Regions from separate parts of the Homo sapiens genome. Here region 1 is linked to region 2. The links come from fine-mapping of genetic effects on gene expression. A gene starts in region 2. The other region holds a variant in brackets. All regions are shown on one strand. Distances are between the middles of the regions.

What was found. PIP is the estimated chance that this variant, and not a neighbour inherited with it, causes the effect.
Region 1: its variant is fine-mapped to the expression of INSL6 in tibial nerve (GTEx, PIP 0.96).

The regions. Positions count from the first base shown.
Region 1 is chr9:4,843,335-4,859,758 of GRCh38, forward strand. It overlaps RCL1 (RNA terminal phosphate cyclase like 1), which reads left to right. Exons shown (of 9, transcript NM_005772.5): 7 at 1,191-1,347; 8 at 6,113-6,216. MIR101-2 (microRNA 101-2) reads left to right here and starts at 6,963; the gene lies at 6,963-7,041. It overlaps LOC124902113 (a long non-coding RNA gene), which reads left to right and starts at 7,033. Exons shown (of 2, transcript XR_007061402.1): 1 at 7,033-9,928; 2 at 10,480-13,741. The variant A/C (reference allele first, on the strand shown) is at 7,674.
Region 2 is chr9:5,178,656-5,195,079 of GRCh38, forward strand. It overlaps INSL6 (insulin like 6), which reads right to left and starts at 6,984. Exons shown (of 2, transcript NM_007179.3): 1 at 6,659-6,984. The coding sequence starts at 6,947.

The DNA of each region.
Region 1 (16,424 bases), 340 kb before region 2:
GCACATCAGTCCAGTGTGGTCCCATTTTAACTCTCACAGTAATTTTTTTTTTTCTTAATTGGGTCCTTTACCAAGGAAAGCTGTGGAGGCTGGCCTTTGCAAACTATACCAGTGCATATCTCTAATGAGGTCACCTGATGACCAGCAGCTTGGTCAGCCTAACTTGAAATAGGCCTGATAACACATATTTCCCACAAGTTGGGAAGAAAAATTAGAGTAATTTACATAGAACCTAATATATATTCTTTGTCTTTTCTAAAGTTACTTAAATTGTGTTAAATGGAATAATTCTGATTAAATATAAAGTTTATCGTAATGACAAATACACCTTAGAAAACTCACACAGATGGAAATTCTTGGGAAATGCAGGTAAATGGGTAAAGCAGCAGTGGCACCTTGTCTTGCTTTCTCTCCCCTTCATCTTCTAATCTTCACTTTTGTATGCCACTGCCTGCAGCCACTGCTGGACACCCTCTCACTTCTGCTGGTCAGGTGACTCAAAGGCAATTTGGGATTATGCTAAAATTCTCTAGGTGTCCCATGATGATAGGTGGATAGCACAGTGTTAGATTGTTAAGCATAACTCAGAGTGCCTCCCAGAACCTTTGATGAAATGGGTAACTCACTGCACCCCCTTTCCTTGGCAGGTGTTGTTAACCTTCGACTGCATAGACAAGCAAATTTTTTTTTTCCTTAAGAATCTAAGGACTGACTAACATAGTTCTTCTATATAGTGAGCTCATATAGTGCATTCGAAACATTAATTTTATACATAGTTTTAGTGAAACAAGTATTTTGGCTAGTCTCCTGCCAGACACATAGAAAGTATTGTGTGAGCGTGTGTTGAGTTGTGTTAAAGGGGGCAGGTCTGTGTTGTGGTTGCATACGGATTGTACTGCTGGGAAGGCCGCCACACCTTTCCTGTTGATGTGTCTACTTAACAGTCATTGGGAAAGTAGAATTGAGCTGTCAAATCTTAAAATTTTGTGGAGAGATGCTTGTTTTTGGACTGATTTTCTTTTCTGGTCAGCTAGTAAACTAGTAGCAACTCTATGAGGTTAATGCAGCCAGAAAGAAGCCTTTGAACACAGTGCCGTCAAAAAAAATGTTTGTCTTCTCTTTCCGTTTGCTGGTGAGTGGAAACCTCACTTGGTTAAACCTACTCAGTGTTTGTGCCTTTGTATCTCCAGGTCTCCGGGCTTTGGGTTGTCACTGGTTGCTGAGACCACCAGTGGCACCTTCCTCAGTGCTGAACTGGCCTCCAACCCCCAGGGCCAGGGAGCAGCAGTACTTCCAGAGGACCTTGGCAGGAACTGTGCCCGGCTGCTGCTGGAGGAAATCTACAGGGTATGTCCACAGCTTCCTCTGATAGAGGAGTGACCAGGAAGCAGTTTGTTTTCTCATTCTCATCTCTTGGCAGCTTTCGTCCTCTTCCAAGGGCTCAAGCCAAGGAGATAATCTGTTCCTGTGCATTAAGCAGTTCAGCCTTAACTAGTTTAATTGATTAGCTCAACCAGTCAGTGAGTAGAGATCTAGCCCCACTGGGTTGAGACACAGGGCAGGTAAGTTTTAACAGTGAGCCAAGGAAAGAACTGGAACAGTCATAAAGGAAAGGGAAGGTTAAAAAAAGGAAGCAGGTAAGGTAAGGTGGTGGCTGACACACTGCCCTAGCCAAAGAGAGTACCATCCCGGCACCCCCCGATTGCTGCCATGTGGGAAGATGGACTCATTCTTTTTAGATCTTTTAAGAGAAGCTAGAAATCTGGATTTGTATGTGACAGTTGATTCATATATAAAACAATAGCAACAGGCTAGATTTTGCAATGCATTCTAGAGCACAGAATCTCAGTTAACAGATAAGTATTAGAAAAGAAGAAAAAAATTTAAAAAAGCACAGAATAACTAGGGAAGGCAGGCCTGTGGCACAGCATAGCAGAAGCTTTGGAAAACCTAAGAACATGGAACAGAGAAGGGGTAAACTGATGTTGAAGACAGACTCAACCAGTTGTCATTTTGCTTCTGCAGGTCTGCTGGTGGGACACAGCTGAGACCAATTTGCCCTCTCAGTTGCCACAGTCTTTCTCTGTTGATCCTTTCATTGCAACGGGCACATATGCATGCACACACTTTTACTGTTTCCTCAAAATAGGTGAGGTGACCTAAAGTAAGGGAGAAATTTGGAAAGATGATGGCAGAAAGAATAAGATACAGTTTCCTAAAAGATATATTCCCTGAGATCCCCTATACTTGGTTAGAAGAGGGTCACAAATCTGGGTCCAAGATTTCTGTTAGTCTGCACCGTCTTTTGCCTTGGTCCCACATCAAGAAGGTGAAACCTTTTCTCTGACATGCAGAGTCCAGGAAAGGCTCTGAAGGATGGTCGTTTCTCTGCTCTGTGTGTTAGGTCCCAGATTCTTGAACTGAGCATCAGCAAGAACTATACTCTAGTTGATTTGCTGTTGTATGGTGTATAATGTTTGTAAATCATCTCTCTTCTTCCCCTAAGGAGCTGAAGAGACTTCTTTCTTTGTATTGTTCTGTGTATTTCTTCTCAGTTGTCAGGCATCTTTCTGGTCTCCAAGTAAGTTTTCTCGTTTATGGTAGCAAAAATCACATCTGAGCCAAGTTAAATAAAATCAGTAAAACAGGTAAAGTGGCAATTTAGTTTTTCTTTTAATTCTTCCTTTTGCCACTGGTTCAGTTTATTAATCAGGGTGGTAGGGTAAAGCCTGACTAGCCATAGGTATTGATCCTCAGACCAGCCTCACAGTGGAAAACAGCTTATATTTATAGTCTACTCCCTTGATCCAAGTCAGTGTTCTTGAAAATGTCTCATTGGTCCAAGATGGAACACATGAGAATGAGCTGTTTCAGAATTAATTAAATTTCCAGGTCCTAAATGGCTCTATTTAATGACCATCTAATTAAAAATGGAAGACAGTGGACCTATAGTTTTATTTTCAGGAGAGTAGCTCCAGCCCCTCTACTCGGCATTCACCTGGGAAATAGTAGAAGAAGGAGATGAAATCTTCCTGAAGGAGGAGGTATTCTTTGACAAGTCTTGTGCAGTCACGATCTGGCCTCAGATGTTTTGGTGCTAAATCAGTTTACTTTTTTATGCTAAATTTAATAATTTTGTGAAAAATGGGTAGTAACTAAAAGTTTGGGGTAGATGATCAAGAGGTTGCCCTGCCAGTTACTTAATTCACGAAGTTTGTGGTCTACTTATTTGTAGGGGGGCGGGAAACAGTGCATGCAATGTGTTTCCCTGGGTCTCTTGTTGTGCAGGATTTCTTTTCCTGGTCCTGTAGTGTCTGGCCGTGGCTGGTCCTGTAGTGGCCTTCTCTCTAACTATGGGGACACTTCCATGTCTTTCTAATAGACCTTGGGAGAATTAGAAGCATCACATTATACAGTAGTCCAGTAGGAGCCTATGGGCACAGCTAGAGTGTGGGGTTTATATCCCTATAAATAGCAGGCTATAAGCCTCAGGGTAAAAGCACCTACCACTCCACAAGAGGAAAAACATGCAGTTTAAATTAGGTTCTTTAATATTTTTCTTTTTTTTTTTGAGGAAGAGTCTCACTCTTTCCCAGGCTGGAGTGCAGTGACGTGATCTTGGCTCACTGCAACCTCTGCCTTCTGGGTTCAAGTGATCTTCCTGCCTTAGCCTCCCATGTAGCTGGAGGCATGTGCCACCACGCCTGGCTAATTTTGTATTTTTAGTAGAGATAGGGTTTCTCCATGTTGGTCAGGCTGGTCTCGAACTCCTGACCTCAGGTGTTCCACCCGCCTCGGCCTCCCAAAGTGCTGGGATTACAGACGTGAGCCACTGTGCCTGGCAATTTTTTTTCTTTAGTTGAGATCTACTTTCAGTCTTCCATTGTGCCTGGACCAAATTTCTTTCGTTTTCTTTTAGTTATTCAGAAAACTTCCTTTTTATGTCTATGATCTTTAATTATTAAAAGGATGGAAATACTTCATGTTTTTCTGAATAATTTTCTGTAGAGTTGTGATGTGACATGGATTGAATGAGTGGTAAAAAATCCATCCCTTTTGAAGGTGCTATTTATCAAGTTTTAAGCCTCTGATCTAATCCCCCCTGTTCCATTTATGCCTCATCGGTTACCAAGCCTTCTTGATTCTGTCCCAGGCTTTCTGGAACTGCCTTTTCTTTCCATCCTTTTCACTGCTCTAATCACTGCCTGCCTCCCTGCTCCACTCCACAACTGGATTATGGCCACTGGCTCTCTGCATTTCTAGCAGAGAAGTTCTTTCCAAATCCTAACATCCTTTTCAGGCTAAAATACTGATCTGATCTCTTCACTCATGTGCACAGAGACCTTCACTGGCTTCTCACTTTCCTGGGACAAAGTCAGAATTCTCGACCCATTTCGGAAAGGCTTGCCTTAATTGGGCTACCCACCTTCTCTGTGCTGTATGTGCTTCTCCACAGGCAGCAGTGGTGCCTTCCAGGCTGGTCACCTGGCCATTCCTTGCTGGCCCTGGCATTTTATTTTTCCCCATCATTCTGTTCTTCCTTCCTCCCCAAACCCTGCTCATCTCTCAAGGGCTGGCTCAAGTAGTCCTGAGTCCTAAAGCCCTCCTCAGGTATCTGGCAGGTGACACCTCCCCCCAGCATAGGTAGGGTGATAGCCCCTACCACTTCCTCCATGATGTCCTGTACAGGGACCTTAGCTATCTATTACATTAAAATACTGGTCCAGTGAATGGTGAAATAACAACAGTGATAGGAAGCAGAGACTGAAGAGAACACTTTAATTTTAGGCTGTCTTATGAAAGGGAGCAAGATCTATAAAACAGTTTTGTTGGTCGTCATATTTTCCATGGGTCAGGTTTTTCTTTTTGGGTAGAAAAGGAAAAGGAACTCTCCTTGTCCTAGAATTTGCTATGTGATCTAAATGTTGTTTTCTGTCCTTTATTAACTAAGGTAGTTTAGGGACGTGCAATAGATTTTCATAAAGGCTAGCAGTAAGATCAATCCTTATTTCCTTCACCATTATTAGGGCTACTAAATGATATCTGACAGCCAGAGAATTTCAGAGTGTCTGTATCTGAAAATGGATTTATTTCCTACCCTACATGCCTTAAAAAGGAGGCAGGGGCAGTTGTAGCCATATGAACCACACTGCTGGCCACCTATCCTGTTCAGTCTAGCCTTGGATAGTAACGTGCCTTGGTCAGACTGGATTTCTAATTTTGACCTGTGCAAAATATGTAGAAATTCAAGGTCATCCTTCTTTGACTATGTACAATATGTTTTAAAGTTATTCCAGAAAGAATGATCAGAAAGCGTGTTTGTATGCTTATGTATGCGTCTAGTGGAGGCAAAACAGTTAAAATGGCTGAGAAAATGAAAAACAAAAGAAGAAAGGCAACCTAAGCAGTTGTACCTCAGGAGAAAGTGTTTGAAGAGAAGTCTGTTCTGCTTGTTAATTTGGAAGAAAGGGAAGGAAAAGGGGGTGGAAGGCATAATTTTATACATAAGTAGTAAGAATAAAGGGATCTAACCTTAACAAGTCTTCAGTTTTAAGGAACTCAGGAAGAGATAAAGGAGAGAAGTTAATAGAGTATGGCAAGCAGTTTCCTGAATGTATTTGAATAAGTGTAAAAGTAAGGCCATGAAAAGGCCGTTTCATGTCAGATAGACTGTGTTGTTCTGTGACAGATTCAATAAATATGAGCGTCATCCACTTAACCCTTGGAATTAACTCTACATCTTCTAGAACTGATTAAGATTTTTTTTTTTTTGCATATACTCAATAAAGATGATGTCCTCCTGCTGCTGCTTTAATGATAAAGGGAAAGTTTCATTTTTTTTTTTTTTTACTAGATTCACTTAAGAAGATTTGAATCTGATAGTCTCATTCTGATAGTCTCAACTATTACAGTTGCTCTAATTAACTGTTAGTTTAACCCTCTACAGTTAGTTGATACAATGATTACTCTTATAAGACCTGTATTCTGTTTTATTGTTGCTTGAACTTTGGATTTTGATATTATGAGTGTATGTTTCTGGTTTTTTTTTTCCTCCTCTCTTTTGTTGGCTTTCCATTTTCTGGTTTGTACAATTATTAATTTGTGTTTACAGGGTGGATGCGTAGACTCGACCAACCAAAGCCTGGCGCTACTACTCATGACCCTTGGACAGCAGGATGTTTCCAAAGTCCTGCTAGGCCCTCTCTCTCCCTACACGTAAGTTATTCTTTTTCAACCTCGTTATTCTGTCCAGTGTAATTTTCTCATTGCCCAAAATGACAAAGGGTGTTGTGCTGCACAGAGCCTGCACTATGAACACCTGCTTGTGTTTATCCTCAAATCAGCCAGCAGTTGTCACTCTTAACCTGGTGTTTATTTTTACATACAAGGATTTTTGCATTTCTTTCCTTCCTTAATCCCAGGTAACTGAAATTGCATGATCTCTATTGGGCAGTTATTTTGTTCGTGCTTTAGATTTTGTTTCCAGGTTAGAGGTAAACTCCTGGTTTGGTGTAGCTTGGATTTTATTACTAGTTTTTTTTTAATCATTCTTTTCCTTAGCTGTCTAACTTGCTGTGGGAAAACAGGCTTTTTGTCTAAGATGATAGGATATGAGCTCACTGGGAAAGATGACAAAAGACAGAGTTTGTATTAATGCTACTGGACTAGTAGGGAATTGTAGAAGTGAGTTTGGATTGTTGAATGTTAGCAGAAGTTGACTGCTGTGGTGTAAAAGCAAGCACTCTTCAAAAAGAACAGTGTCAGAAGACTTGAATTATAAATGACACTGTGAAAGAAGCATTTCCTATTGATAGTAAATGAGGTTGCGGAAAACAGCCTATTTGAGTACTGACATTGTGTGTGTGTGTTTTCACGTGCTTGCATACTTGGAGATCATCATATGGCCCATCTGAGGTTGGTGAGCTGGGTGGCAGGGAATATTCAGGTAGATATGAGACTGAACTGTCCTTTTTCGGTTATCATGGTACCGATGCTGTATATCTGAAAGGTACAGTACTGTGATAACTGAAGAATGGTGGTGCCATCACATTGAGAAAGGGTTGAGGACTGCGGTGGGGCTATGCACCCTTGGGCCATGGCGTTGGGGGCATGAAAACCAGGAGCTTGAAATAAATTCTTATGGAGGCTTTTTTTTTTCTTTTTTTTTTTTTTTTTGGAATTCGTGGTGGGAGGTTTTTTTAGAACAGGAAAATGGAAGAGAATACATTCTGTTAGCAGAGAGGGAAGACTGATAAGCAGGAAACTGGTAAGGACCACATTATCTCCTGATAGCTTGTGTAAAAGTATTTCGTAGGACAGGATACCTAAAATTGAGTAATCCTAAATGGCGTGGTAACATCAGTAGTAAACAATGCTAAAATAGACTTGGTAGTTAAGTACTTGGAGAGGAGATGAGGGCTGGAAGAATGGCACCCTAGGTACAGAGACTCGCTTCCTGTAGAGAGCTCACTGGAGGCGGCTGCCAGCTGTGTGGCCACTGTGGCCCCACCGGCTTTGTAGCTGGGCTCGTAGCTGCCGTTTCCCAGCCCTTGCTTCAGGCCTGGGGAAGTCCTGCTTGCACACACGGTATGAGGTATGGGGTGTTGTCTTGAATGTGTGTGGTCCTGGGGCATGGGGTTTGGCAGAACATTCTGTGAAAATGGAATACATAT[A/C]TGTTTTTTTTCGTGACACTTTTTTTCTTTTGCTTTTGGAGATTTTTCAATTTGGCTCCAGGACCTGTATGATGTTTTCAAGCTTTGCAGAGATGCTCAAGATATGACTGGACATTTTTGAAAGTTCCTGTGTCCTCTTCAACACATCTTCTCACCAAACATTAATTGTAGTGTCTTTTCTTCCAGAAAACTTGCATAAAATGACTTCCTCTCCTGTGAAAACAGTGTCCTGCTCTGAATGGAGCTTTAAAGGAGTAGCACAAATTGTAAGATGATGTATCTTGAGGCTGGGGCTTAGAGATATTCTGCTGCCTCCCAGAGCTTTGTGCAGACGGGTCTGCCAGGGTGGGAAAGGGAAGCCTCCGTTCTTTTTGGTAAGCTAGCATAAAGACAGGTAAGGGAGTCTATTTTCAAGAAAGCTGGATCTGTTTCATACTCTTTCTGCCCCTAATCACTATGGACAGCTCCAGCAGCACAAAGAGATGAAGGGCAAAGGCAGGATGCAGCAGGCAAAGTTAACATTGTATTTGTGAGTACAGTTGAGGATAAAAAAGGGATGAAATCCACGGTGAGGACCATCATGGTGGGGGAATAGTTTATTCTAATGGATTCAAGAGCTTTGGAGACCAAACTAACACATTTATTTTTATGTGTAGTTAAAGTCATAGAAACCTGTTTTGTGAAACCTCAGATTTCTAAAGAAAACCAGAAGCAAGACCTTCCTTGGTTTAAAAAAAAAAAAGCATTTCTTCAAGCAGTTTGGACCTGTTTTTCGTGTGTATAAAACAGCTTTTTAAATGTCTATGTAAAGAGCATTGGGATTGCTGTTGGTGGTTTTCTGTGCTACTTGAGAAAGTAAGTCTGTATGTGTGAAACTCTTTTTTTTTTTTTGAGACAGAGTTTCGCTCTGTCGCCCAGGCTAGAGGGCAGAGGCGCAATCTCCGCCCACTGCAAGCTCCGCCTCCCGGGTTCAACGCCATTCTCCTACCTCAGCCTCCCGAGTAGCTGGGACTACAGGCACCCGCCACCGTGCCTGGCTAATTTTTTGTATTTTTAGTAGAGACGGGGTTTCACCATGTTAGCCAGGATGGTCTCGATCTCCTGACCTCGTGGTCCACCCGCCTTGGCCTCCCAAAGTGCTGGGATTGCAGGCCTGAGCCACCAAGTCCGGCCAATGTGAAACTCTTTTAGAAAGGCCCAAGAGATTTTTTTTCAGTAGAATAAAATACTGTTGGATAATCACTGGTATATGAAGATTCTATTTCTGTTAAATTTGTTGAGTTTTAGGTGGCTTACAGTTAGTGACAGTAGTTGCACCCTCCATTCAACAAGCTTAATTTTACAGTTTAGGGAGGGAGGATTTATACTTTTGGATTAACAGCAAGAAAAATAGCAAAAATTAAGATGCATCTTAATTAGCACTTTCAGAAATTATTTGTGGAATGAGACTGCAGTTACCAGAGCTCTCTGCATTCTGCCAGTGCACAAGTCTTGGAGTCCAGCCTATCTGGACTTAAGGCTCTACCACGCGCTACCAGGAGACCGTGGAAATGGTATTTAGCATCTTGGAGCCTTGGTGTCATTTGTAGATAAGGTGCGTGGTCCTGAAGTCCTGGACTTGTGGAGATGGAACGAAGCTTAGATTAAGTCAGATGCTTAGTGCTCCTGGCAACGTGCCTGAGGAGCTGTCAGTGCTGGGTGCTGTGGTTCCTGCCTGGACACCCCTTCACCCTGCTGCAGTCCAGTCCCTTGGTCAGGTCACTTTTTTTTTTTTTTAACTGCTCCTTGAGGAGCAGGACTACCCCAGAGGCAGTGTGGCTAGAGTAGCCCGGTCAGGTCACTTTGAACCCCAGGAGGCCTAGTAAACTTGCTTTGGGTGATTTTAGGGTTTAAGTCATCTGTAAGTGGTCTGCCCAGCTACCTATAAATCTATATCCATTAATTTTAAATTATGGATTAAAAAATTTTAATTTCTAGTTATTATTTTTATGACTGACTTCCCCTAGTCACATTACTGAGCAAACTACACACATCTTATTGATCCTAAGAATTCTGTAAGGTAGATGTTTATTTAAACAACACCGTGTTTACTGTGTGCAAGATGTTGTTTTAAGCACTCAGACATAATAACTTATCTGGTTTTCATCATAACTTCATAAGGGCAAAAAAGGCAAGTACTATCATGTGCACCGTCTTACAGGTGATGGGATTGAGGCACAGCGAGGTCAAGTTACGTGCCCAGGGTCACACAGACAGTAAGTGGGGTTCAGACCTGGACAGTCTCCTCCAGTCACTGCTTCCCTTACCCACTGTGCTCTTTTTTTTTTTTTTTTTGAGACGGAGTCTCCTCTGTCGCCCAGGCTGAGTGCAGTGGCGCGATCTCAGCTCACTGCAAGCTCTACCTCCCAGGTTCGTGCCATTCTCCTGCCTCAGCCTCCTGAGTAGCTGGGACTACAGGCGCCCGCCACCATGCCCGGCTAATTTTTTGTATTTTTAGTAGAGACGGGGTTTCATCGTGTTAGCCAGGATGATCTCGATCTCCTGACCTGGTGATCCACATGCTTCGGCCTCCCAAAGTGCTGGGATTACAGACGTGAGCCACCGTGCCCGGCCAACCCATTGTGCTCTTATGTAAGAGCTGGGATTCCATCCATATCGCTGGACTCCAAGCACCTTGCCTGAGGCAGGATGCCATGCTACATCTTTTCAGCAAAGTCCTCGTTTCAAATTCTGCTGTAAAATGATCTCTTTCTATCTTTAGTTGGAAATCTAAAATAAACCGTGACTTTTTTTTTTCTAACTTTAGTTAATGACCTTTTTCCATGACTGTGGAAGTGCTGAGGAGCTAGAGGACACTGTCCTTGTTAAACACCAACTGAGTGGGGCTTCCTAGCCCACTCAGCCTAAAGCTCAGCCCTCTGAAGAACCAATGAGGAAACCAGTGGGGAAACTGGGAACTGCCGGCCAAGCCTGCCTCTACTTGGGGTCAGTGGCCTCACTGCATTCCATGAGCTTGCACAGTACCACTATGTCTTAGTTTTGTGAAGCGTTTAAATTCTGTAAAGCCCTGTCACCTGATGTTTGAGCCCTAGAACATAATTGGTGTATGGTAAAAGCAAGTGATAGCCTTCCTTCTCAGATAAAAAAGAGGTCACTGACCTGCTTATGGTGAGATCCTGTCTGAACTGGGCCTGGGACCCCATCTCCTGACAGTGCAGCTAGCCTAGTTCTCTGTTTCCTGCTGCCTCAGTAACTGAATGTAGTAATTTCATTTGGAGCAGAGGTCAGCTTGTCTTTGGAAAAGCCTCTATTCAGCAGAAAAAGCATCAGCAGTATATTTAAAAGCTGCCATGTAATGACTATAGGGACTCCATTGAGCAGATCCTTTTCTTATCTCCAGATCTTTTCCCTCAACTTCCAGAGCATGTCCTTACACCTGAGATGTAGGTACCCCCAGCTCTGTCCCATATCCAGTGGCATAGTAACCAGGTGGCTTAGTGGAGGAGGACGCAGGACCCTCTGTTGTGGTTTGTGCCTGTGGGGGCTGCCAGAGAGAGGGCTCACCCCATGATTGCCTTCACCCCAATCTCTCACATGCTTCAAAAGAGGGGTCTGGTGGGAGGGGCTGTGTTTAAGGGTGGGATCTGGCAGCCTGTCAAATCCTGGTCAGTTGGGATTCAACGGACCCATGACCACAAGCCTCATGGCCTTTCCTGTTGACCAGCAGTGGCAGTGGGAACAACTCACCTTTTGAAAATACATAGGAAGGCCGGGTGCGGTGGCTCACACCTGTAATCCCAGCACTTTGGGAGGCCGAGGCGGGTAGATCACGAGGTCAGGAGTTCAAGACCAGCCTGGCCAACATGTGAAACCCCGTCTCTACTAAAAATACAAAATTAGCCGGGCGTGGTGGCACATGTCTCTAATCCCAGCTACTCGGGAGGCTGAGGCAGGAGAATCACTTGAACCTGGGAGGCAGAGGTTGCAGTTAGCTGAGATCGCACCATTGCACCCCAGCCTGGGTGACAGAGCAAGACTCCGTCTCAAAAAAAAAAAAAAAAAAAAATAGGAAAAGTTATCTCTGTGCTCCAGAATTCTCTGAAACCTGCTTGTCAGATGGACTAGAGGCTTTCGTAGAAAAGTCAGTTGCTTTTTGTTTTCTGAAAATCATTTTGTCCCGGGGAAAAAAAAAGCCTCACTGCAGATAATCATTCTCTATGTTAGGTGTTAAAATCCTTTACACAGGAGTTGCATAGAGCCCCTACTGCCTAGAATGGTTCTTCTGAAAAGCTGCTATTTGCGCTGTGTGGGTGGTTACTCATTGAGGGGCAGAGCTGCTCTCGGTGAGCGGTGGGTCTCTTTGCCCTGGGTGTGTGGCTGTGTGGTTGTGTCTAGGAAGTGTGAATCTCCAGTGTAGTGCTGTGGAAGAGAGGGGCAGGGAAATATGAACTCAAGAGGCGGTGCCTCAGTGCAGCTGCTGCTGTGGAGAGCTGTTGGGCTGTGGAGCAGGACGTGGATCAGCACTGGACAAGACTTTGTTCAAGTGCATGTAGATACAGGACGAGCTTACTCTTCATTTGCTTTTCGTTTTCTTAAGGAGGCTGTTTGCTGGGATTTAATATTGTCTGTGGTTTTTTTTCAGGTTGTGAGCATTTTTGCTCTTCAATATCCCAGCTGCCAGAGACATAGGGAGAATGGGGCTAGAGGTGGGGGAAAGATTCTGAAATGTACCTTAATCTAGTCTCTTACACAGTCTTCCTTGGACAGGCTGAGGAGTTGGCAGAACATTATGTAAAAAGTGGAACTAACTTTGCTTTTTCTAACTGTTCCAAAGGCTACAAATACCCCAAACTTGCAAATACACAGGCCTGCACACTTGAGCCTGTGTTCCTCCCATCCTTCTCCAAGAGATCAGAAGCAAGCTGAGGGCCCGTAGAAATTCTGCCAGCTGGGGAGGGTGTCTGGTTTTTCAAGCACAGTTGAGTGATTCAGAGTGAAGTAGGCTGGGTGACATCCTGGGAGCAGAGCATGCCCCAGGCCTGTGTTAGTTTGAGGCAGCAGCAAAGGAGAGACCAATCTGTTTTCTCCTTCAGATGCAGAGTGGGTGAGATGGCTGGCTTTTTCCAGGTTGCCGCCAGCTGGAAGCTTTGCCCACAGATGTGGACTGTTTATCTGTGGTTTGCTGTGTTTTCTTTTTTCCCTAGGACAGGATGGGGGAGATGGTGGGATGGATAGAAAGCAACAACGACAACAGAAATTTAATTGGTTAGTAAGACAGGAAAGCCAGCAGGGAAAGCTGACTTCCCTTAATTGCCAAGAATGTTGAAAATTGTTTCTCAAAATTACCCCAACTCCTAAATTCTATCCAGTGCCTCTTTACTGAGAACCTTTACAGTGCCTTGTTTGAATAACGGGTTCAGTGATGGAGAAGAGCCTCTTTACTGAGGCTAAATTCTATTCAGTGCCTCTTTACTGAGAACCTTATACAGTACCTTGTTTGAATAACGGGTTCAGTGTTGGAGAAAAGCATTGCTGTTGAGGTACTTAAATAATTTAATGATGGGGAAGGGGACAGTGATACATAAGCATTTAATTAGACACCATGAGCAGAGAATGCTATGGAAACCTGGAGGGGTGGGAAAGATCGTTTGGGGTAGGGTTTATGGGCTAGGAAAGACTTCATAGAAAAGTTGACAAATGGGATGTTATTTTAAAGGTCGAGATGAAGTTGCACATTCCTAGGTGGAAGGAAAGCAAGGAATTGGGGGATTTTTCTATGAGCATCCAGCACTGACCAGAACTCCTGCCCTCTAGGGTTGTTAATGTTTCATCTCTTAGCCCCTGATGCGCTGGTCACTTCAGCCACAGGGTCAGGAATTGTTCAGGCCCCCTTTTCTCCATGTAGCTGTTTCCTTCCTTTAACTAGATCAGTGCTCTTAGCACAGAGGGATGGGGATGGGAGGGAAATTCATCAAGGCAGGCTTTATATGTAGTTTGGTATACACCGAGTAGGGGTGAGAACCAGGATCAGTTGTTTTATAGCATGGCAAATATGTATTGATTTCTTTATTTTAAAAAGCTTTATTGAGAACCAATTCACATATGACACAATTTACCCATTTTAAGTACACAGTTTAAAGGTTTTTTAGTGTATTCACAGACTTGTGTAACCACAGCCACAATCTAATTTTAGCACATTTTTACTACCCCCAGAAAGAAACCCTGTGCCAGCTCACAGTGCCTCCCATTCTTCCCACTCTCCCCAGCCCCAGGCAACCACGAATCTCCTTTCTGCCTCTGTGATAGATTTGCCTGTTGTGGCTTTTTCATATTGTGTAGATAGAATCATACACTATCTGGTCCTTTGTGACTGGATTCTTTCACTTAGCATAATGTTTTCAGGGTTCATTGATGTAGCACGTATCAGTGCTTTGTTCCTTTTTTATGGCAGAAAAAAAAAAATCTTCCATTGAATGGATATACCACATTTTATGCATTCATCAGTTGGTAGACATTTGGGTTGCTTCTACGTTTTGACTCTTGTGAATAATGCCATTATGAATATTTGCGTGCAAGTTTTTGTGTGGGTGTATGTTTTCATTTCTCTTGTACATATTCCTAAGAGTAGAATTACCGTATCCTATGGTAACTCCCCGGTTAACATTTTGAGGAACTGCCAGGTTGTTTTCCACAGCGGCTGTACCGTTTTACATTCCCACCAGCAGTGTATGAGGGTTCTAGTGGTTCTGCCTCCTCACCCACACTTTTGTTATTGTATGTCTTTTTATTATAGCCATCCTATTGGATATGAAGTGATATTTCACAGTGGTTTTGATTTTCACTTCCCTAATAACCAGTGATGTTGAGCATCTTTTCATGTCCTTATTGGATATTTGTGAGGAAATATCCGTTTAGCTCTCCCACTTTTTTTTTTTTTTTTTTTCAGTGAGTCTTACTCTGTTGCCCAGGTGGGAGTGCAGTGGTGCAATCATAGCTCGAGTAGCTAGGACTACAGGCTCCTGCCATCATGCCTGGCTAATTTTAAAACAATTTTTTTGTAGAGATGGGGGTCGTAATAGACTGGTCTTGAATTCCAGGCCCCAAGCAATTTGCCTGCCTTGGCCTCCCAAACTGTTGGGATTACAGGTGTGAGGTACCATGCCTGTACTCTCCCATCGTTTAATTAGGTTATTTGTCTTTTTATTATTGAGTTGTAAGAGTTGTTTATATAGTTGAGATGCCTGACCTTTATCAGATATATGACTTGCAGATCTTTTCTCCAATCCTGTAGGTTGTTTTTTTACTTTCTTGATGGTGCACTTTGATGCACAAAGTATTTTAATTTTGATGAAGTCCAATTTATTTATTTTGTCTCTTATTGCCATCCTTTTGGTGTTGTATTTAAGAAATGGTTAAGAAACCGTTGCCTAGCCCAAGGTAATGAATATTTACTCCTGTATTTTCTTTAGTGAACTTTATAGTTTTAGCTCTTACAGCTATGACTTTGATCTCTTTTGGGTTAAGTTTTGTGTGTGATGTGAGGAAGGGGCCCAGCTTCATTCTTTCACCTGTGGATATCCAGTTGTTCCAGCATCATTTGTTGCAATGATTATGCTTTCCTCATTGAGGAAATTAGCCATAACTGTGTGGTTTATTTCTTGACTCTCAATTCTCTTCCATTGATCTATGTGTTTAGCGTCAGTGTTTTTAAAGCTCCTTAGGTTATTCCATGTGCAGTCGAGATTGAGAACCATCTGGCCAGAGTGGAGAGTTTGGCTGGTTTGATTGGGAGACAGTACAGTGCGAGGTTTTTGTAATACTTCACTATAGATGTGCAAGCCATCATTCTTCACTAAGCCAGTATTCCCTAACCTTGCCCAATGAGACTTGCCAGGGATTCTTGTTAACAACATAGATTTCTGGCCTCTATGAACTGGGGAGTACAGGGCCTGGTGGAGGGTAGGGAGGGATCAGCTTTGTGTGTGGACTGTGATTCTGGGCTCTTCCATATGGACATTTCCTACCAGTTGCAAGTTCACCATAACCTTCAGGAACCTGTGTATTTAATGAACTGTTCAGGTGAGTCTTATGGTCAGGCTAGCTGGGGTGACGCTAGGTCTGCCAGGCGAGACCATTAGAAGCCTGTGCACCTGCACTGCGGTTCATCCACAGAATTGCTCTTCCCAAGGTACTCTTGGACTGATGCCATCGCCCTGTGATGCCATTGTCCTTGTTGTGTTTACTGTGCACACTTCCCCGGCCACCTTATTTAATATTGCCTTCTGCCAAATATGTACAAATACTGTCATACCCACAGTTCTTCCCCGTCTGTGTTGTTTGCTTTGTTTACATTACATAGCACTTTTCAGGAATAAAATTAATTTATTTATCTAGTCTCTATCTATACCACTAGATTGAAATCCTCCTGAGGGAAGGATTTTTATTTTTATTTTTTTTCATTTGAGTGCAATATTCCCAGCACCAAGAACAGTGCCTAGCATACAGTAGGCACTTGATACATATTAAGTAAATGCGAGGGTATTATTGGAGAATGAAGGGAGGGACTTGTCTGTTTCAGCATCAGTAGTCATTGTGCTTGTTTTGAATGTCATGGTGCTGTGAATCATGGAAATAGGTGTTTCTGTCTTTGTATAGGCCACTCAAAAATCATTGCCTAAGCCAGGTACATTGGGACACCCATAGTCCCAGGTAGTCAGGAGGCTGAGGTGGAGGATTGCTTGAGCCCAGGAG
Region 2 (16,424 bases):
AGATACATAGACCAATGGAACAGAATAGAGAACTCAAATAAAACCACACACCACACACCTACAACCATACGATCTTGGACAAACCTGACAAAAACAAGCAATGAGGGAAGAATTCTCTATTTATTAAATGGTGCTGGAAGAATTGGCTAGCTGTAGGCTCAAAATTGAAACTGGACCCCTTCCTTACACTCTACACAAAAATTAACTCAAGATGGATTAAAGACTTATGTAAAACCCAAAACCATAAAAACCTTAGAAGAAAATCTAGGCAATAGCATTCAAGACACAGGCACAGGCAAATATTTCAAAACAAAAACACCAAAAGCAATTGCAACAAAATCAAAAACTGACAAACGGGATTTAATTAAACTAAAGGGCTTCTGCACAGCAAAAAAAAAAAAAAATCATGAGAGTGAACAGACAACCTACAGAATGGGAGAAAATTTCTGCAATCTATCCATCTGACAAAGCTCTAATATCCAGCATCTATAAGTAACTTAAACAAATTTACAAGAAAAAAACAACCCCATTAAAAAGTGGGCAAAAGACATGAACAGAGAGTTCTCAAAAGAAGACATATATGTGGCCAACAAACAAAAAATAGCTCAACATCACTGATCATTAGAGAAATGCAAATCAAGATTACAATGAGATACCATCTCATGCCAGTCAGAATGGCTATTATTAAAGCTAAAAAACAACAGATGCTGGCAAGGTTGTGGAGAAAAAGGAACACTTTTACACTGTTGGTAGGGTTCAACCATTGTGGAAGACAGTGTGGTGATTTCTCAAAGACCTAGAGGCAGAAATACCATTTGACCCAGCAATCCATTACTGGGTGTATACCCAAAGGAATGTAAATCATTCTGTTATAAAGATACATGCAAGCATATGTTCATTGCAGCACTATTCACAATAGCAAAGACATGGAATCAACCTAAATGCCCACCAATGATAAACTGGATATAGAAAACTTGCTACACATACACCATGGAATACTATGCAGCTATAAAAAAGAATGAGATCATGTCCTTTGCAGGGACATGGATGGAGTTGGAAACCATCATTCTCAGCAAACTAATGCAGGAACAGAAACCAAACACCACATGTTCTCACTTGTAAGTGTGAACTGAACGATGAGAACACATGGACACATGCAGGGGAAAACACACACTGGGGCCTGCCTGACAGGGGCCCTGGGGGAAGGGAAAGTATCAGGAGGAATAGCTAATGGATGCTGGGATTAATACATAGGTGATAGGATGATCTGTGCAGCAAACCACCATGACACACATTTATCTATGTAACAAACCTGCACATCCTGCACATGTACTCCTGAACTTAGAAGGTGAAGCAAAAAAAAGAAGTCAATCCTCTTCAAATTAGTGTATATATTCTGTTGTGGGAAGTCAGGGACCCTGAACGGAGGGACCGGCTGGAGCCATGGCAGAGGAACATAAATTGTGAAGATTTCATTTTAATATGGACATTTATCAGTTCCCAAATAATACTTTTATAATTTCTTATGCCTGTCTTTACTCTCTTAATCCTGTTATCTTCGTAAGCTGAGGATGTATGTCACCTCAGGACCACTGTGATAATTGTGTTAACTGTACAAATTGATTGTAAAACGTGTGTTTGAACAATATGAAATCAGTGCACCTTGAAAAAGAACAGAATAACAGCAATTTTTAGGGAACAAGGGAAGACAACTGTAAGGTCTGACTGCCTGCGGGGTTGGGCAAAAAGAGCCATATTTTTCTTCTTGCAGAGAGGCTATAAACGGATGTGCAAGTAGGGAAGATATCACTAAATTCTTTTTCCTAGCAAGGAATATTAGTATTAATACCCTGGGAAAGGAATGTACTACTGGAGGGAGGTCTATAAACAGCCGCTTCGGGAATGTCTGTCTTATGTCGTTGACATAAGGACTGATATACGCCCTGGTCTCCTGCAGTACCCTCAGGCTTACTAGGGTGGGGAAAAACTCCACCCTGGTAAATTTGTGGTCAGACTGGTTCTCTGCTCTCAAACCCTGTTTTCTGTTATTTAAGATGTTTATCAAGACAATACATGCACCACTGAACATAAACCTTTATCAGTAGTTCTGCTTTTGCCCTTTCCCTTGTGATCTTTATTGGACCCTTATCAGTAGTTCTGCTTTTGCCATTTGTCCTGTTCCCTCAGAAGCATGTCATCTTTGTTAGACCCTTATTAGTAGTTCTGCTCTTTGCACTTTGAAGCATGTGATCTACTCCCTGTTCTTACACCCCCTCCCCTTTTGAAACTCTTAACAAAAAACTTGATGGTTTGAGGCTCAGGCCAGCATTAGAGTCCTACTGATATGTGCTGTCACCCCCGGCGGCCCAGCTGTAAAATTCCTTTCTTTGTACTCTTTATTTCTCAGCCAGCGGACACTTATGGAAAATAGAACCTACATTGAAATATTGGGGGCGGGTTCCCCTGATAATATTCCACGCATCCCAAATAAAATTCCATGTGGACTTTTAAAAAAGAAATTCAATAAGCATACTTTTAAATATATATGAAAGAATAAAGGTTGAAGATTTAGGTTAGTCAATCCTAAGGGAAAAAATAAACATTGAAGACTTGTCCTGCCAGATAAATGACATCCTATAGAGTCACAGTATCAAAAATAGTAACGATAAAAGGCCAAATAAATGACCAATTAAATAAAATAGAAAGCTCAAACTTATCAGTAATGGTTATCCCACAAATTAGTGAGAAAAATAATTGATTAGTAGAAAGTGTTCAGAAAACTAGCTCCCTATGTAGAGAAAAAAAGACTTACTGAGAAAGTGAGGTAATATTCCTACCGAGACCAGAACTAAAAATTAGCCTAATAATTAAGGACTTAATGTGAAAAGTAAAACTGAAAAGTTAACAGAAGGACAGAAAAGGACCTCTAATACATAAGGCAAAACACTTACTGCTTAATTATATAAAAGTTAAGGCTTTCTGTCAAGCAACAGCAATAGACAGATGTCAAAATGGGAGAACATATTTGTGACATCTAAAACCAACAACTAGTTGTTACTGTATCTAGATTTGATTAACTCCTATAAACCAACTGGAAAATGATAACAATTCCAACAAGAATTGGGCAAAATATATAAACAGGAAATTTTAAGAGAAAATCCAAAAGGTTAACATGTATATGAAAAGATGTTCAGACCCAGAGCAAGTTAAAATAGAAATATAGTGTCATTTTACATCTATTACACTGGTAAAAGTTAATAACTGTATAATGCTAATTGTTGACATAGATATGAGGACACAGGATTGGTGGTGCAACTATACATTGGTGTAGTCACTCTGAAGAGCAATCTGATACTCCTCAGGCAAATTAAACATACACATACTTCATGACACAGCAATTCCACTCTAGATGTGTATCCCAGAAACACTTCTAGGTTCATAAGGGGACACATACAATGATGTTCATGGCAGTGTTATCTGTAGTGGTAGGGAGTTCAAGGCTACATAGGTTAGGTGTTCAAAACTGAATAAATCAGTAAAATGTGAGGAATGCACATGAGTATTATGCAGTAGTTAGAAGCAATGGACTAAATGTTCACATAGCAACAATAAGATATAGATCTTAAATGCCTTTTAGATATATCTTAAAACATATGAACAGGAAAGAATGCATAATTTGCAAAAACTTATAAAAACAAAAAATATATAATAAACACATTACAACAATTGCCAAGGAGAGGAGGAGAATGGGAGTGGAGAAAGGGGCTAAGTGAGGATAATCACCTTCTGTAAATTATAATTTACTTATGTTAATTGTCTATCTTTACTATTCTGTAGGCTTCATGAGGGTAGGAGCCTTCACCGTTTACTCTAACATCCCAATCACCAAGAAGAGTGCCTAACACATGATAGGTACTCAAATTTTGTTGAACTAATATATAAAGAGAAGGGCCCTTTACAGACTAGTTGTGATGATATCTGAAACATAAAGAAACAAAAAAAACAAGAATATGTGACATGAAGACTAAGAATATGGGAATATGATTAATCTAACTGGAATAGGGGTTACAGATTATGAAAAGCTGATTTTGAAACATTAATGATTTCACCTGGCACTAATATCTCGGAAGCACAATACTCAGTCGTAATTTAGAAATATGATGTCAACTTCATGGTGCCACATTACGGGGTAGGTCTTGGAGATACTGCCTCCACCTTCAGGGTCCATTAACAAGAAGCACACAATTACAGATTCAAGATATGTATAAGTAGCTTTGAAAAAAAGCATTTTTTAATAGCAGCGTAGCAAATTATATTTTTCTGTGTCAGACTCAAGTAGATCATCAGGATATTAAAATTTCAGACAACTGACTTGATCTAACACAACAACTTGTCCTGCTGGTAAAAGTGAAATAAAAAGTAATCAACTTTCCAGCCATATTCATATATAAAAATGATGTCATAATTATGTATTCTATATTAGAAACATATACATCTCTGCAACTTCTAAATTATTTCCTAGAAATTAACAGGACAGAATAAATGTCATCTTCCCTTATAGATTAATAATTTTTAAAATTATAATACAATTCATGTTGATAACCTAACCCATTTTTCCTTCCTCTACATATTTCAATACAACTGTGGTTTTACTGTTACATAGTATTTCCACTTCAGCAAACTGTCTTTTACATAGTTTCCATAGTAGCAGGTTTTGTGGGTATAACAATTTTCAAATATTTTCAGATACATTTTTATTTTCTACAAGTCTTGTTTCATTGCAGCTTCCTGCTCATTATTAATGACATTTATTCTTCCAGGGGAGTGTGAATAATACTTAAAACAAAAGGATCATTAACAAGCTGAGTTTTAAGGTTGAACATTTTTATTAAGAAAACTGTCTTTAGAGCACTTTGTTGAGAAAAGGCATTCCAACCTCTCTTTAAATAACAGCCTCAAGCTTGGAGGTCTAAAAATAAAATTTTGACTACAGTATTATAGCATAGGTAGTGAAAGCACAGTATTTGATGTGAGAGAAATGCCCACCCAACATAAAGCAGAAAGGGAAGGCTCTCCTTGCACTCCTGGGAGAAAAGAACAAGAAAGAGGAGTTTAAAAGAAAAAAAAAAGAGAGAGACAGACAGTAAACTGGACCTTGTTACTCAAAAGTGTGGGCCACGAACTAGCAGCACCTGGGAGCTAGTTAAAAACGAAAAATATCAGGCCCCACCCCAGGTCTACTAACTCAGAGTCGGTAAATTAACAGGATTCCCAAATGATTCATATGCACATTAAAGCGTGAGAGTCACTGAACTAAAGTAAAAGTAGAAGACTGGGGAGAGACACTTCCTTCATTATAACAGAAGGACAAGGTGAGGTTTGTATGTGGGTTAGTTTGATGGGTCGGTTTGAAAATGATCATGAATCAGTCTCATGGTTTCTGTCTTTAAAAGTTTTTATTCTTTCAGCAACAGTGACTTTATAAATTCTATTCATTCATTCCAAAAAAGCTAATGAGTGCCTACAATGTGCATTGTTTGACTTTTTTCAGTCCTCTACATTAGGGTCTCTTTTTGGCATGATAGTTTACTCATTTCCTTAATTTCAGAAATCTTCACTTTTACAAGATTTGTCCAAATCAAATCAACTGAATTACTGTAAAAGGCAGTAATCTTCTTCCTATGGATACACTATAAACAAAGTGCAATTTCTTTTAAAATGACAAATCATACTGGGACTAAAATGTCTTAGTCACAAAATGTAAAAACATAGTAAGATATACCAATGAATCTGGAACAAGAATATCCTTCCTGCAGACTGCTTGAAAGCATCAAGTATAAATTCAGCGCATATTAAACACATGCGATGTGCTAGGCCATCTGCTAAGCATTTCAGACAAAAATATGCATGAAATAGTCCCTATAATACAGTATGGTATATAGGGCTGACTTTATGGGACTGAAACCTATGTAGTCACACAGGCCTTGCATTTGGTTTAAATGTTCCTTTGTTGTTCTGAATAAATTTACCTTTGAAACTTTAAGTGAATGAAATACAAGTACGTAAACTCTTAAATGAAGCCTGATAGGAGAACGGACCAGGCCTATCTCCTGGTACGTGACCAGGGGATATGGACAAGTAAGGAAAACAGTTTTATATTTTACTACCTTTATTTTCATGGCCCTTTCCTGCTTTTTTGAACAAGGTACTCTGCATTTTTATCTTCTACAAGGTTGGGCTGATTCTGTAGCCAATGACGACAGTCAAATACAACTATGTGCTAGATACTGTGGTAGAAAGGACAATGGAGCCATTGGCCATGAAAAGGTCAATGATGACTTCACAGGGAAAATGATACTTAAGTTGGGCTTTGAAGGACAAAAAGGAGTTTGCCAGATGACTGGCACTCCAGAAAAGAACAACATTCTTACATAAATATGTAGACTTACAAGTGTACATTTATTTCCTCCAAGTTAAAAAAAAAAGCGCTTCATTGAAGTTTTGTATATTTTCAATACACTGTTTTTTACAATTTTTTAAAGAGCTGTGTACTAGGCACAAATTCCACTTCCTGGGGAAGCTCACCTTCTGGCAGAGCAAATGCAGGAATAAGAAATATACAGAGGTGAACAAACATGCCTTCGGTTTCGATTTTTACCTGGGTTTGTGCCTCTTCCCCGGGCCGGGGAAGCGGTTTGCGGGCTTTCGAACTGGTATGGGCTGTAGGCTTCGACCTTCTCCGAGGCCTGTGCAATCAACCGTGAGAAAGGGGTTTCCTCCTCGAAACGGAACTGGCTCCAGTTGGCATGGCCGCAGAGTTTTTCTATTTCTTTCACCAAGTACCTGCCGCACAGCTTCCTGGCACTGCTGATGTCGCTCAGTTCACGAGAAAACCGAACCAGCAGGAGTCCAAGCCACAGCAGGGACAAGCGGAGGAGCCGCGGCATCCCTGTGACCCCAGGCTAGTCCTCCGCGTTGTGCAATGGCGGTCGGCCGGACCCTGCTCCCTGTCTGCGCCTGCGCCAGGCCGAGCGGCGCGCACAAACACTGCGGAATTCCGAGCGCGTGGGGGCGTCGCCAGAACTTCAAGGGAAGGCGCGCGCCGGCTGCGTCAAGGCTTTCCCGCCAGCTCAGGGGTCTCAGGTGGTCGAAGGTAGCAGGCCCTGGCTCCTAAAATGAAAGCCAAAAATCCCCTCACTACCCCGCCACCCCCTAGTTTGATTCATTTTTCTTTCCTTCCTCAATGGGAGATTCCTCACCAAGCGTGAGAACATAGGATCCCTGTTACCTGATAACGTAGGTTAAAAAGTGTTGCTCCCTCCACCTGGAATGCGTTTCTCGTTCTTGTTTGCCAGGTTGTTAATAAAGCTTCGTCTCCCTCACAGAAACCCCCTGTCATCTCTTTCACGGTGTTAATCGACCTGTTTCCATTTGTGGGCGTGTAACCTCTTTCCTGAGACCCCCGCTTCATGAAGGCAAGGGCCTGCGTCTGTTCTTGCTTTCCATCGTACCCCGGGATCTGGCATTTAGCTGGCAATCAAATATGTGGTGAAACGTTTAAGTGTTGCATATGGCCATGTGCGTTTAGTCAGGTTCAAAGCTTCTTCAGAAAAATCCTACTGGTTCACAGGGAGGCATGGGCCTTAGCCTCAATCTCCAGAAAAAAGAAGTAGGGACGCTGTCTTGAGGTACCTGGGATGGAAATCTGGTTCTTTCGGTTAGATAATGTAGAGGATTGTGTATTACCAAATTAACTTGTGACAGGGACCCCTAGAGGATTTGCCTTGTAAGAATAACAGCATGCAGCATGAAATGCTCATTTAGGTGAGATAATTTTGCTCAGTTAGGAGGGAAGGGGCAGGGAAGCGAAGCGCAATCGGCATAGGTAGCTTTATCATTTTAAATGAAGTTCTGTGTTACTAGTGTGTTGGCGTGGAAGGATGTACTATCGGCCACAAGAGGGCATTCGGTGGCTGTCTCAGGAATAAGGTTCAGGATGCTGAAGCCACAGGTGCAAGCTTATCAGTGATCTCACCATTTCCCTATACAATTTTATTTTTTTCTCCCTTTCTTTTCTGTCTTCTGACTCTATGTCTTTTTCTTAATTTTCCGTTTCCCTATCTTTTCCCTGCTTCCCAGTGGCATCCATGAATGCTGTTAAATTAACTGCCAATTGGATTTTTTAAATGGTTGATATAATATAGATTAGTAAAATTTAATCACCTTCCTTAAAAAATAACTTATGTCCAAACTATAGTGGGCCATGAGTCCTAGTCAGAACTTTATCAGGTAAGGTTTTTGAGAACGGAAAATATTAATCATACTGAGATGAATGTAAGCCTTGTGGTAACCACAAGGCAAAACCTATAGTAGATATATAAAAGATAAAAAAGAAGAAATCAAGCATACCACTACAGGATATCATCTAATCACAAAGAGAACAAGAGAAAAAGAAAAGAACAAAGGATCTACAAAATAACCACTAAACAATTAACAAAATGCAGTAGTAAATTCTAACCCATCAATAACTACTTTGAATGTAAATGGATTATGTTCTTTGATCAAAAAACAGGGCTGAATGGATAAAAAAAAAAAGACTCAACTATATACTGCCCACAAGAGACTCATCAAAAGACTTGAACTATACTTTGGAACAAGTGGAGCTAACAGATATTTATGGGACATTCCATCCAACAGCAACAGAATACGCATTCTTCTAAAATGCACAGAGAACATTCACCAGAATAGATCATATGTTATGCTACAAAGCAAGTCCTAATAAATTTAGAAGAATAAAATAATATCAAATATCTTTTCTGGCCACAATGGAATGAAAGTAGAAATCAATAAAAGGAGGAACTTTTGAAAACTCACAAATATGTGGAAATTAAAGAACATGTTCCTAACTACCAGTGGGTCAAAGAAGAAATATAAAGGGAGTTTAAAAAATATCTTGAGACAGGCTGGGCTCAGTGGCTCATGCCTGTAATCCCAGCACTTTGGGAGGCTGAGGTGAGTGGATCACTTGAGGCCAAGAGCTCAAGACCAGCCTGGCCAACATGGTGAAACCCTGTCTCTACTAAAAATACGAAAAATTAGTCAGGTGTGGTGGCAGGCACCTGTAATCCCTGCTGCTCAGGAGGCTGAGGCAGGAGAATGGCTTGAACCTGGGAAGCGGAGGTTGCAGTGAGCTGAGAGGGCATCACTGCACTCCAGCCTGTGTGACAGAGTGAGACTCCATCTCAAAAACTCCAAAATGGAAACACAACATACCAAAATTTATGGTATGCAGCAAACACAGTGCTGAGAGAGAAGTTTATAGTAATAAGCACCTATGTCAAAAAAGATCTCAAATAAACAACTTAACATTGTATTTCAAGGAACTAGAAGAACAAAGTAAGCCCAAGCTTAGCAGAAAGAAGAAAATAACGAAAGTCCAACAAAAAAATTTTAAAAATAGAGGCTAGCAAAACAATAGAAAAGTTTAACAAAACTAAAGTTGGTTCTTTCAAAAGATGACCAGGATTAGGGACCCACTTAAATAAGCAATCTAGCTGCCCCTTGGCAGGGTGGATGTGCTGCACTGGTGGGAATCCCCCTTGTCTGGGCTGCCCTTACTCTTCAGAGCCAGCAGGCAGAAAAGACTAAGATGGCTGATCCACAATACCACAGCCACTTCTCCTCCCAGGGGCTCCTCTCAGGGATATCAGAGTTCTGTCCATGAACCCCTGGCTGGGGATGCTGAGATTCCCATAGCGGGGGCCCCTGCCTGGTGAGGAGGAGTGGATCAGGATCCTGCTTAAAGAAGCAGTCTGGCTACAAACTGACCCAGCAGCTGTGCTGCACTCTGGGGAATTGCTCCCAATTCAGACTGCTGAGTCTCGTTGGCACCAGTGGCATGGGAAAACTGTGGACTGCAGCCATAGTGATGGCAGCACCCCCTCACTCCCACGAACTCAGTCTTTTTAGGCAGTCTGTAGCCTGCCGTGCTGGCCAGAGAGGATTCTAAGCCAGTAGGTTTTAGCTTGTGGGGTTCCGTGGGAGCAAGACCTCGTGGATCCCTGGCTTCAGCTCCCTTCCCATGGGAGTGGGTGGATCTCCTGCATCGCGGGAGTTTCCAAAGCTGAAGTATGCAAATATTCCTGTGTCTCAGTGCCTGCTCTAGTGGCCACCCACCCCAGCCACCATCATGAGTCTGTACAGCTTTGTGCTTGTGATCCAAGTCCCTCGTGGCATGGACTCACAAGGGGACCTCCTGATCTGCAGGTTGCATTGATCCATGGCAAAAGTGTGGTTTTCAGGGTAGGGTAGCACAATCCATCACTGCCCCAGATGGCTGGGGGAGGGAGTTCCCTTTGCCCCATGCAGCTCCCAGGTGGGCCCTCTCTCTACCTTGCTTTTTCTCACTCTCCGTGGGTCGCACCAACTACCTAGCCAGTCCCAGTGAGAGAATCTTGGTACCTCAATTGACAATGCAGAATTCACTCTCCATTTTCATCCTCCTAGGTAAGAGCTGCAGAGTGAAGCTGTTTCTGTTCCGCCATCTTGGCTGCTCCTGGGTTCAAGGAATTTGCCTATCTTCTGTTTTATTTAGCTCCATTGTAATCTTCATTTTTTATTCTTCCTTCTTCTGGCTTGTTCTTTTTCTACCTACTTAAGGTGTACCTACTTATTAGTGCTGATATGGTTTGGCTCTGTGTCCCCACCCAAATATCATCTTGAATTATAACTTTGCAGAGGAAGGGATGAGGGACATGGGCCAGGGACAGGCTCGATCTGGGAAGCTGCCTTTTACTTCTGGGGCAGCATGTTTGTCTTGTTCTAGCATTAACTTTACTGGGCATTGTCCTCATCCTTTTGGATTGCAATCAGTATTTCAGACAGCACTCTTGCTGGCTTTATCCCAGGTAGCTGATGGTCTCTGAGGTTCTGAAGCTCTTTTCTGAATTCCCTTCCTCATAGCCTTCTATCTGTACCATCTTCCAGTCTCCACTTCATCCAGTCAGAGGTTCTTAGAGAAACTCATTTTGATTTATGATCATATCTGCCACTTTTTAAATTTCATGATCAATTTCTTACTAACAACTTCATATTTTCTGTGAATTCCTCACTGTTTTTCCTGACTTGACAACAGGAAACAATTTACATCGAATCCCTAACAACTTCTAAAACTGAAGTTTCTGGTTTTTAACAAATTAAATTTTAAATTTTGTGATAATTACAGATTCACACATGCCAATGTAATAAATAATTACTAGACCCTTTCCAGTTTTGCCAAAAGGTAACAGCTATGAAACTACAGCATGTATCAAAATGAGGATATTGACAGTTGAACAGTCATGATATAAATCTGTTCCACCACCATAAGGATTCCTTAAAGTCATACCAACTTCCAACCTGCGCCCTAACCCACTCCTTAAATTTTGAAAAAAAAGATTTTCCATTTTTAAATTTTATCATTTTGTGAATGTTTTAGAAATGAAATCATAAGCATGTAACTTTCTGGAGTTAGTGAAAAAACTCAGCCTGATCTCTGGATAGTCATGTGGCTTGATGCACTTGTCACTAGTTGGCTGTTTTTATTGTTGAATCTTATTCAATGGTGTGGATATACCACAGTTTGTGTAACTAACATGCATAAAGAACATTTTGTGTAGTTGCAGTGTTTGGCGATTACAAATCAGCCTATATAAACATTCATGTGCAGAATTTATGTAAATATTAATTTTAAATTTCTGGGAAAATGTTCAAGAATATAATCTCTGGTTTGTAAGATGGTTGCATGGTTACATGTTTAGTTTTTCTTAAAAAGTCACCAAAATATTTTCTGGGGTGGCTGTACCATTTTGTAGTCCCAGGAGAAAATTTTGCCTCTGTGTCTTCTCAGAAGAGTGGTTTATTTTTATTTCTGTGTATCAAGGGAGGGAAGAGAGGTAAATGAGCGTATTCTTCACCACCCTGACTGTCCTGTCTGGATTTCTCCAGGCTCTGTTATGCATTGAATTGTGTCCCCGAAGTGATCCACTGAAACCATAAATACCTGTATTTCAGAATGGGACCTTTATAGACCCTAGCGTGGCTGTAGATGTAGTTAGTTAGAATGAGGTCCCTCTGGAGCTGGGCCCTATATTCAGCAGGATGGATATCCTTACACAAAGATAATGTGAAGACAAAGGAACAGAGAGCACCATGTGTCAAGAGGGACAACATTGAAGAGCTGCAGCTACAACCAAGGAATGCCAAAAAGCAGCAGCAATCCATGTGAAGTTAGGAAGAAGAAAAGAGGATGCTCCCCAAAGGTTTCAGAACAACATTGGCACTGCCAACACCTGGATTTTAGCTTGCAGCATTCAGAACCATGAGAAAAAAAAATTCTTTTGTTTTAAACCAGTTTAGGTTCTTCGTTACATCCACCCTGGGAATCTCACAGTAGGGCCTTAGAGCTATTCTAGGAGTCTGTCCTTTTACTTCAATTGTCACACTGATTTATAAAGAATATTAAAACTAAGAATAAAGGGAAATTTATATCTTCCAAATGTCCTCCAGGAAGCAAAGCTTTGAACATTTCTTGGTTAAGAGATTTAAAATTATATATACTAGTAAAATTATGAAACTTCATCTATTATCATTTTTCCCTCACATCTGGACTAATGCCAGGGAGAAGGAAAGGCTGAAAAGGTTAGTGATCAGTGTGTGTGTTAGGATAATTTCTTGAGATGTTATCCTGGCTTGGCATGATACTGTATTATTCCGTCTCACATTTCCATTCCCCAGCCCAGTTCAAGCAGGCTGCCTGGGCCTTGGTTTTTGCCCGTCTAGCTTACTTTTGAAGGGCTATGCTAGAAAGGAGATGCCTAAAGCTGCACTTCCAATTGTTTATAAATGCCCAAAGACATATAAAAAGTTATACAAGTAACCCTGATAGGACTTGAGCCAGAGAGAGAGTGAAATACAGAGACAGACACAGAAAAAGAAACAGAAGGGAGATAATATGATTATTTCCTTAAATTACCCTGAGGTTGAAACTTCCCTATCCAAGGGAAGAGATATGATCCTTGTCAGCATTCTTTCTGTCCCCAGTGAGGGACACAAGTACAGAGGTGAGAGGACCATGTGGGATTGCACTGAGTGTTGCAGCGGTAGCCATTGAGGACAGTGCAGCCCAAGGATCTTAGTGCTTTGGCGCTAAGACCCTGGGTTCAGTGCACACCTTCATGGGTGTCCCCATTAGAACAATGTCTGATGTTGAATTCTCTACTAAGTAACAGAATTGGGATTGCTATTGATTTAGTAAAGAAGAAAGGTGGATATTTTCTGCACGTGAGAGACTGTGCCTTAAAATTGATACCTGTTGCGCAAAAACAGTCTTTGGGAATAAGAAAGGTAGGGGTCATGACACATCTGGGAAACTAGAGGGAAAAATGGAGAGAAAGATAGGCTAGTAGTAGGAGTATGTACTGGTGCAGACTGAGGCAACTACTTCAGTAGATAGTAGATAATAGTGACAGCCCTCAGTGTTATCAGTTAAGGACGAACTTGGAGAAAATGTGTTCTGGAATGGACAGTGAGCTGTGTACTGCAGATAAGTAAGTCTGAATGCAAGAGTTACAATGAGCAACAAAGGTTCCACCATGAAAGCACAACTCTTAAAACATGTTGGCTTTCTCCCCAAACAGTTACATTCTGTCGTTCTCTGCTCTCTCAATGAGAAGAAGCTCTCCAGGAGGGACTAAGAGAGGACATGATAAACCTTAGAGCCTTGGTTATGATTGACCATGTATGGAACTTTGGAATATAGGAACTTCTATGTTAGTCTCCTATAATTCTGTTTACAGACATTTGATTGAAGCAATTTACTTTTTCTAAAGTAAATTTTTTCTAAAGTGCATTTTCTCTGTAAAGGCTAGCTAATATGTATGGATACAGAGGTTGAAGAAACTGACTAAATTTAAAAATGATACCATGATGTTTTACCAACTCTAAGAAATGCTCATATTATTTCATGGTTTGTTTTACTTACGTAAATGTTCTGTAAATTCTAAAATGGTAGACTTGAATCCATTTCCTCGCTAGTTCTTTCTGAGACAAAAAATGAGTTATTTATTCAGTTATCTCTATGATTATATATTTATTTAAAAGCATAAAAAACCTTACTAGAGAAACAGTTGAGTTCATTTGGGCACAAAAATCTGAATATATTTATTGTCAGTTCAGCTTGCTTTCAAATAATATTTCACTAAGCCCCAAACCCTCCCACTTCCAATGAAGTAAAATATTGCAGTGTTTGTGGTTTTGTGTTCATGTAGTATACGTTGACAAAATTGATTAAATAAATGTATAACTGTTACATGTGGTTGGTGTCAGTTATGTATAAAAAGTTATTATGTTGGTTAAAGTAATAAAGCTTTTATAATCATTATATAGTCAATGAGATTCAAAAGCAATTGATTTACATATACTCTCAATAAAAAAGAGAAAGAGACTTTTTCAGCAGAAAAAAGATCAATTTCATAGAAGTACAATAGTGAAAAGACTATGGTGTTACAGAGCAAGTGAAACATGTAAGCATTAATAATGATTTCTCACATTCTAACAATCAGTGGTCACTGAATTGGACATCACTGAATGTTTCATGGAGAATACATAGGAGGTTAGGTGAGAAGTTCACAATTACTTTACTTTGTGCATACTTTCAGAAAAGTCCCTTTGTCACAACATTCTTCACAGCATAGTTTACTGGCATCATCAGCTTCACTTCTCTTTTGTCAGGAAAGTAGTACCTTTCTCAGTGACAGCTACCCCTCAGACAGAATTGCCTTCAGCTCCTGTGACAAATTAGGAATGAATCCCAACGTCATATCTAAGGTCCCTGCATCTTTATTAGTGGTGGATGACATCATCTCTGTGAAGTCAAAAAGGAGGGGTGAAAGGTGAGGAAAAACATTCATTTCAAAGAGGATTAGAAAAATTACAGAATTTTGCCTGGATCGCATTGTAACCATTGCCTCAATGTAATTAAACACCAAAGAGAATCAGCAAGTATCCTAACATCTAAACAACTTAGCTTACTTAGAGTTGGGCACCTTGAAGTACTACAGTATTATTAAGGATCTGCTAACTTCACTCTCCTGTCTGTGGACTCTTTCCGTGACAATCAAGATGCTTGCACCATGGCACTTTTGACTTTCTCTAACGCTATTTTGATTGATAACTTCCAACTGCGTTATGGACTAGATAACACTAAGGAAATTTCTTTCATAATCACAAATTTTCCAATAGAAAGACTCACATATTTAAGTCTCTATTCACATATAACTGTACGTCTATATCTACATCCACCCCAATGCCAGACATTTAACATTGATTTTCTATGTGTGCTTTCCATTTTTCTTGTTAAATTCATCTACAGTTTTCAAAGATTTTTAATGACCATTTTCACTAATTTATTCAGAAAAAGTGAAAATTAAACACAAATTATACTACAATCTACTCTTCCTTGGCTTGCATTAGTAATTTTCCTAAACTCAGTTTTATTTTTCCCTATTTTATAATAAAATAAACAAACTCTGACCAACAATGTAGGAAAAGTAAATAACTCTGAAATCATGCTGTGAATCCTATAAAAAGGAAGCAAGTGTTTGCTGTACATGATGACTTTAAATGGGGTCATTTAGTGATTTAATATGGGTTATGCATATAGTCTACAAGATGTAATTTTGGAAGGCAGCCGTGTGCACCACGATACCACCAATGCACTTACAAGATGTAATTTTGGATTCACACATTGCCTATTCAAAACCTGTTTCCTCTACATTAAATGTAAAACAATAATTAGTAATTTACCTTGGCTTTTCAGAATTTAATGCGACCTATTAGACTGACTAGAGTGGCCTCTATAGCTTTTGAAAGCTGCCCTTGCTAATTCTAACTTAACTTGCAATTTATCTTTATGACTACCCTGTGACTTGGTAAAGTTTAAATACCATTCTGGTATTGAACTACCATTCTGGTATTGAACTATGCTCAACTCTGAAATTTCACTTTTAAAATCCATTGCAGCTTCAAATGTTGAAAACATTAATCAGATCTTCAGCTATAGTGGTCTGAAGGGGTAGCTTCCCTTGTCTCTGGTCCTCTCCAATTTCTCCTCTAATGATCCAGGCATCTTTCTCTTACAACTCTTGTCCCTCAACACCCTATAAGACCCAATTAAAAAATATGCGAGGCAAGGCTCTCTTGGAGTGCATTTAAAACCATTAAAACAAAGAGAGAGATTGGACGCTTTTAATTGCTTAGGCCACAGTCTAGCTTTTGGACAAAAGAAGAGTCATTAAATCTAAGGTCCTTCCTGTCTCCCATTCGAGGACCCTAACAGGTCTCAGAGTCCCTGTGCCTGTCCGGCATGTAAAGCAGCTTGATAACCA